2 linked regions of the Homo sapiens genome follow. The protein of the gene in region 2 purifies or fractionates together with the protein of the main gene of each other region. This does not show direct contact. Each region holds a gene or a part of one and is shown on either strand. Other genes may lie near its edges.

Region 1 (3,747 bases), on a different chromosome or scaffold from region 2:
ACGCAAAGGGCGGCAGAGATGGGGAATGAAGGGGAGAGAAGCATCGGGCAGAACAGTGGCTGCGAGCCTGGCTGACCGTGGAATTCCACAGGAGACTGAACACAGCCTCCTGGGCCTGCTTGGGGTTTCCGACTCAGTGGGTCTTGGCTGGGGTCAGCTTTGCTGTCTGCCCCAGGAGGCCATGGCCCTTGTTTGGTACCCACTTCCTAGGAGTCATGAGAGCCGAGCTGGCTCTGCCTGATTGGTAAGAATAAAGGGGAGAATGTCTGAGTAAGAGCAGGCGAGCCCTGGCTCCTCCAGGTCTCAGAGGAGCAGAAGCTGAAGATTTCTGGAAAGCACTTGCCCTTAGGGTGGAGAATCGAGGCTCCCTCCACCTCACCTCCAGCACCACAAGCAGGGCCTGAGGGTGGTGCACAGCAGAGGAGGTCCCTCATGGCCTGAGCTGGGTGGAGAAAGCACAGGACCAGGCAGATGGGCCTTCTTGGAGCAGTCCCTGCCACTGCGTCTCTGCTCCCCATCACTACCCTTGAAACATGCCACTTTCTCCCCAGAGAACAGCAGGATCAATCCTGTTATCCCTGCGCCATCCTATATCACCTTCCTCATGGGACATTTGGAGGGGACAAGAGGATAGGACCATGAGTATGACCATCCTCAATCTAGACCCAGCCTGCCTGTCCCTTCCCTGCTGTGTGGCCTTGGGCAGACACTCAGCTTCTCTGGACCACTGTTTCCTCATCCAACAAACGAGCCCTGCAGAGATCCTTCCCCTGGGACTGGGCTCTGAGCTCAGAGGATGCTCTGTCCTGCAGCCTTCCAGCAGGGAACCTTCCAGCAGGGAGCCTTCCTGGCTTTCATAGTTTCTCCTCGCCTCGGCTGGGTGCCTGGGATTCTGCCAGACCTCAGACTCCAGACTGTGGGAATGGTCACCTTGCGGGGACCTGCCCCTCCAGCACCCAGGGCCATTCTGCTATTTTTATCTGCCATTGGTTAATCTGTATCATTGTGTAGGCCAGCCTCTCGGTGCAGTTTTGCCGCAGCGTGTTACCAACATGAGCTCAGATGGTGACCTCACATAGTGACCTCAGTCCAGTGGAACTGCCCGCCAGGCGGACAGGCACACGGAATTTCAGTTTCCAGTAAAGAGCATATTCTCATTATTTTCAGGAACCTTAAAATGGCTAATAGACATCATCAGCAGGGATTGAATGCCTGTTAAAGTAATTATTAAAGTAAAATCAAGTGTGTTTACTTACTGGCGGTATCACTTACAGTGACGTACACAGATCCTGAGCATTCAGCTCCATGCGTGTTTACTTATCCAGCCCGTAACTACCGCCTGGATCAAAACTAAAGTACTCCTACACCCCAGAAGCTTCCATCCTGCCCCGTCCTGGTTTCTTACAGCAGGGTCTGGCCCAGAGCAGGACCTCCTCAGCCAGTCGGCAAGTGCACTGTAATGGGACCTGGGGTGGCAGAGTCGGAGCCGGGGAGGTGGGCAAGTCCCAGAGAGGCTTCCTGAAAGAGGGGGGCTGCTCCACAGAACCCAAGTGTTAACTAGAACAATGGTGGTTTTACCATGCAAAGGAAACAATAAGGCACTTACCAAAGCTGCTTTCTGCCCTCCTGAGTCCTAGCCCTGAGGTTTGTGGCTCAAGACCAGGTCCATCCCCATTTCTGAGTGGCTGTGGAGTGTGGTTCTCTGAGCCTGGCCCCCAAGTGCTGAGACCCTGAGACCAGGCAGCTGTCTCTACCTTCCGAATGGGAGTGTGATCTCTGGCCTGTGACCGCATGGCAGACTCAAGGCCTGAAGGCGTCTAAGAGCTGGGGTTGTCTGGCAGCTGGTGCCCGGTCCTGGCAGCCGCCTGCTCCTCCTGACAGTGGTCATTTCTTGAACACAGGGCACAGCTGCCCACAGTAGCGGGGGCCTTACCACTCTGTCATTGGGGAAACCTGCTTCTCAACCACCTTCGCTGGCCTGCTTTTCTCCCCTGGGATGGAGGACCTGTCCTTCCCTTGGCCGTGTGACCATCTGTTAGAGATTTCAGAAAGACTTCAGCTCCACCTGCCTGGACTGCTCTGGGTGGCCCCCTCCAGGACTTCCCTGGTCCCTCTGGCCTGGTCTTTTCTGGCCCATGGCATCCAGCCCCTCCACTGCAGGGCCCAGCGCCTGTGTCGGTCTGACCGGACCACCTGGACACTTGTGGGAAATCCTCACCTTGTGCTTTGTCTGTGATTCTCCAGCTCCAAGAAGCCCAAGAAACATCCCAAAGTGGCCGTGAAAGCCAAGCCCTCGCCCCGGCTCACCATCTTTGACGAGGAGGTGGACCCTGATGAGGGGCTCTTTGGCCCGGGCAGGAAGCTGTCTCCACAGGACCCCTCGGAGGACGTGTCATCCGTGGACCGTAAGTAGAGCCCCATGGTCTGCTCCTGGTGTCCTCTCGGTGCCCAGCCCCATCACCAGGCAGGGTCTGGACTCACCCGGCGTGAATAGGACCCATATATCTCCCCTGTCCTGTTTAGATGTGATATAGACTCAGCTTTGTGCTTCCATGACATCTGTGGGCAGATGTGGGCCCTGGGCTTCCAGGCACTGTTTGTGTGGTAAGCGATAGGGCCTGCCTAGGGCACATGTGTGACTGTAGGTTTGGATTTAATGGGACTCTGTGTCGCCTGCATGGACTCTGCTGGAGGGCTCTGTGCAGAGTTGGCAGAGGGAAAACCGAGCGGCCTTGGGACATCTCCACTCATCCCTTGGTCCCTTTCCTCACATGCCCAGGTCGTCCTCCGGTGAGGGGAATTGATGCCACCCACTAATTCAGCCCATACTTGGTGAGCCCTCACTGAGGGCCAGGCCCAAGAACATGCTGAGGAGTGAGACCTAGTCCCTGTCCCTAGTCCCTATCCCGAGGGCCCCGGGGGCCCCTGGGGAGACAGGTCATTGCCTGACAGTTACAAAGCAGCACCAGTTATGACAGGTTGAGCAGAGGCATCAATTCCTGTAGGACTGCCCAGAAGACTTCCTGGGGTGGGGCAGAGAGAGAGCAGCCATGGCATCCCAGCCTAGAGGCTTCCTCTGACCCCCCTGCTGCTGCCTTCCCACAGCCCTGAAGCTATTTGATGATCCTGACCTCGGCGGGGCCATCCCCCTGGGTGACTCCCTCCTGCTGCCAGCCGCCTGTGAGAGTGGAGGGCCCACACCCAGCCTCAGCCACAGGGACGCCTCCAAGGAACTGTTCAGGTACCACCTGTCCCCAGCGGCGCTTGGCCAGCTCTGAGAGTGTTCTGGACAGAGCCAAGGGCCCGGCTCATTGCCCAGTCTCAGCCCCAGCCTCCTCTGAGGGGAGGACCCCAGGCCTGTGAAAAGTAGAAGCCTGTGGGTGCACATTGGGTGAGAGGCGGTGAAGGGGGCTGAGGGGGAGGATCCGCAGCCCAGGGCTGCTCAGCTAGTTCCAGAAAGAGAGAACTTTGTGTGCACAACCAGTCTTTCTTTTCACAATCATATTTTAACAGTTTATGTAAAGAATAATTAAATTATATAATTGCAAGAGCAGGTATAACTGGCATAAGCAAGTTTGGGAACAAATTAAACGGACTCATGGCAGCATGCAGCCCACCCAGCGAGGGGGCAAAGTGCAGATGTCTTGGTGATGGCCTCTCTGCCGGAGGGCCCGGTCGGCAGCTTTCACAGAAGGAAGGGAGAATGAGGCCTCAGCTGTCACATGGAGGTCAATTGGCAGAACCTGT
Region 2 (3,747 bases):
CATAGTTCATGTACCCCTTGCTTCAGAAATATTCATAGTTCCTCCTATAACCTGTTGAATATGTATACTTGGCCAACTCATTTAGCATAAATTCCTGTTCCACCCTTTCCTCCCTCAAAGTGCCTGCTTTTTGTCTCTGCCAGAGGCTACACTTCCCAGCCTGTCAAGATGTCCAGCCTGCAGCTGTAACCCTTTATAAGAAATGAAGTTCTCCTTTCCAAATTTATGAACCTCAGGATTGTTTGTCAACATGTTGCTACTGCAATAGTCTCCTAACTGCTCTCCCTGTTGTCACTGTTGCTAACTCCAAATTCATTGTCTCATTGCAGCCAGAATGATCTTTGAAAAACACAGATCATATCAATTCATCTGCCACTCCACTCCTGGGCTTAAACCCCTCTAATAACCTCCTGTCACACTCAATATTAAATATCTGAATTCCTTATCTCAGTAAACAAAGCATCACATAATCTGGCCCTTGCCTATTTGTCTTACATCATCTTACCTGCAAAGCTCCAGCTACACAGTTTTTTTTTTTTCTTTTTTGAATATGCTAAGCTAATGTCTATGGACCTTTGCAGTAACTCCAAATGTTTCCCCTTAGAGCTCTTGGAATGACTGGGTCTTTTTTGTTAGTCACTGAGTCTGTCATTCTTTATCATCACAATATTTTAAATTTCTACAGGCCACCTTTCCAATATGGACATTTTTTTTCCTTGCTTATGTATTTATTTCTTATTGTCTGTTTTCACTCTTCAGCCAGACTGTCAGCTTCATGAAAGCAAGGGCTTGTTATCTTGTTCTGTGCACTAACCTCCACTTCTGGAACAGTGCCTAGCAAATAATAGGCACTCAATGAATCTTTGTTAAAGTAACTAATTTTTATCTTCAAAGAGCTGACATATCTGGTTGTATATCAAATATAATAAATGAAAAGTTAAATACATATGGCAACAAACAGAAGAGATGTATATGTAAGTACTACATAAAGCATTGATTTTGTTAAAAATGAAAAGGTATTTAGGTTCTAAAAGCCAGTTTTGACTAAGGGAGGGCGGAAGTCACGGAGGTGGGGGGAAGAGAGAGGAGGGAGAGCAGAACTAGTAGACAGAGGATTTGTGCACAAACTTGAGTGCTTGCACAAGTTTTGCAAAGGAGACCTAGCTTGCCCAAAGCTGAAATTCTCCAAAACTGGAGCTTGCAGGGAAATGACAGTGGGCTGAAATATTTTGAGGTACAACTTTCCACTCCCAAAGAGGCCTGCTATCCCCTCCCACTCCCCACTCCGGCCTTTCCTTGGCTTGGCTTTTTTTAAAGAAAAAAAAAAAAAAAACTAAGCAGGTTTCTTTAGAAGAAAAAGAGGAAGTTCATAAAGAGTGTTTGTGGTAGTAGGGGTGGGGTGGAGTGAGGAGTGAGGAGGCCGTCACCTCCCATGGAATCCTTAGTCTTGGGTTTGTGAACCACGCATGGGGGCTGTTTTAGCACAGCTGCTAAAATAGGCCAGGCCTGCAGGACATACGGGTATGTTTAGTTTCTAGATAACTTTTGTTTTTCTAAACTCCTTCTTCCCTTTCCCAAATCTGGCAAGCGTTAGTCATCTTCAACTCGGCAGGAACCCACAAGTGTGCATGTGTGGCTCGGAGGCTTCAGCTGGGGCCCCGCCCTCGTCCCCAGGCGCACACTGACACACGCAGCCCAGACCCGGCCCGAGCGGGCTCCTGCCCTCGGCGTGGCTTCTCTCCAGCCGGGAGTCCCAGGGCCAGCTAGCCTCCTCCCCTAAAGGGGACGGCCTGTCAGCGCAGTGCCAGAGTCCAGCACCGGGAGGAAAGTTTCGGAGTGCGGAGGGAGTTGGGGCCGCCGGAGGAGAAGAGTCTCCACTCCTAGTTTGTTCTGCCGTCGCCGCGTCCCAGGGACCCCTTGTCCCGAAGCGCACGGCAGCGGGGGGGACTTCAGCCCTCCAGGCGGGGTGGGTTCCAGGTCCGGGTCCGAGGCGGGCGCTGGAGGCTCGGCCCCAGGCCGGAGAGGAACTCCTTTCGCGAGCTGTCGCCGTGGGCCCGCATTGTCTGCAGGAACTCTCCGGAATCGGGAGGGGGAGGACTGGATCGCGCTTCCACTGGGATTCGTCAAGAGTTCCGGCGGCAGCTGCGGCGGTGGCGGAGACTCCCTTTGTCCTCTCAGGACCTCCCTCTCTCCCTCCCTGTCAGCTGGTGGGTCCCGCTGCCGCAGGCGCCGGCGTCTCAGCTGCTCGCCGCCCCCCACCCCAGAGTGCGTGCCGGGTGACTCCCGCCACCTTTGCGACCCTCCTGAGCTTAGGGGACTGCGAGCGGGAGGGAGTCTCAGGCCCCCGGCCGCAGGATGGTGGCGGAGCGGTCCCCGGCCCGCAGCCCCGGGAGCTGGCTGTTCCCCGGGCTGTGGCTGTTGGTGCTCAGCGGTCCCGGGGGGCTGCTGCGCGCCCAGGAGCAGCCCTCCTGCAGAAGAGCCTTTGATCTCTACTTCGTCCTGGACAAGTGAGTGTGCGAGGGAGGTCCAGGGTCTCCTGGTGAGGGCGGCACTGGATCAGCTGGGGCTGAGGCTGAGATGCGTGTGCGCACCCCGGGGAGTGGTGTTGGAAACCCGCGGAGGGGTGCCCTGTTGCTGTCTTCTTTCAAAGGGCAAGCGCGTTCGGATCTGTGTGGGCGGAGATCAGCCGGGTCGGGGGTAGTGATTGGAGCCCCGGGCTACTTGGCTCTTTGGGGAGTTGGGGTATTCACTGTTTGCCAGTCTTTTGGCCTCTTGGGAAATGGGAGTGTGGCCTCTTGCGGGCCACGCTCCATCGGCCACAGAGTCCTTACCCACCTCCTCGACCCTGCTCGTACGCAGGCTAAAGTTTGCCTGGTTTTATCCTAATCATAGCGCTTTCATTGGAGCCAGGAAAAGCCTAGGGTTAACATGCCCAATGTGGTTTGCATTTCCTGCGAAGAAAGGCTTTTGTGTTTACTCTGAAGAGCTGGGTTCCACTCTAAACAATTAGGCAGGTATTTACCCACCCCAGAAAACGGGCTGACTTCTTCTTCTTCTTTTTTTTTTTGACGGAGTCTTGCTCTGGGACTGACTTCTTTAACTCTGGGTACCACCAAAGTTTCAGCTACAGATACCCTTACTTAGCTTGAAAAAGAGGCCAGGTGCCCCTATGTTCGTGGCATTGAAGAAGGAACCATTTCAAAATGTTTACTTTTCAGTTCCGTGTTTTGTTTCTCTGATCAGTTCAATTTCATCTTTCAGGTCTGGGAGTGTGGCAAATAACTGGATTGAAATTTATAATTTCGTACAGCAACTTGCGGAGAGATTTGTGAGGTATCTTTCTTACTTTACTTTTCTAGGCAGTGGAGAAGTAGAGCAAAGTGTAGAATTTCCCTTTTCTGAAACCTTTTATAGGAAAAACTTTTCCTGAAATGTTACTTTTAAGTGCCTCAAGGTCGTATTGCACACATGCTGTTATTAGGACAGCCCTTCAGTCCTTGAGGGCTTATTTCATCTGGATCCCAGAAACTTGGCTCAGACTCTGGGGAAGCATCTTCAAATACTATTCCAAATGTCTTTTTCTTTCCGAATTTTCATCTGTTTTGAATTTCAGTTATGCTTTCTCATAATTTATCACATTAAAAAAATAAATTTTATGCGAATAGTATCCATAATATATTTTTCTTTCCACACATTTCTTAGCATTATAGAGGCCCTCATTAAAACAAACAAAAAGTGTTGGAAAAC

The links. Proteins that work in one complex are often made in the same cells at the same time.
Region 1: the proteins of ANTXR2 (region 2) and HS1BP3 purify together in Homo sapiens (affinity purification with mass spectrometry; 2 studies listed by BioGRID and IntAct, with this or other methods). This does not show direct contact.

The regions. Positions count from the first base shown.
Region 1 is NC_000002.12:20,623,390-20,627,136, reverse strand, and holds part of HS1BP3 (HCLS1-binding protein 3), read left to right. Parts: intron 1-2,244; coding exon 2,245-2,405; intron 2,406-3,105; coding exon 3,106-3,241; intron 3,242-3,747. UniProt on the Homo sapiens protein: May be a modulator of IL-2 signaling.
Region 2 is NC_000004.12:80,071,169-80,074,915, reverse strand, and holds the start of ANTXR2 (anthrax toxin receptor 2 isoform 1 precursor), read left to right. Parts: upstream 1-1,686; 5' UTR 1,687-2,355; coding exon 2,356-2,507; intron 2,508-3,261; coding exon 3,262-3,333; intron 3,334-3,747.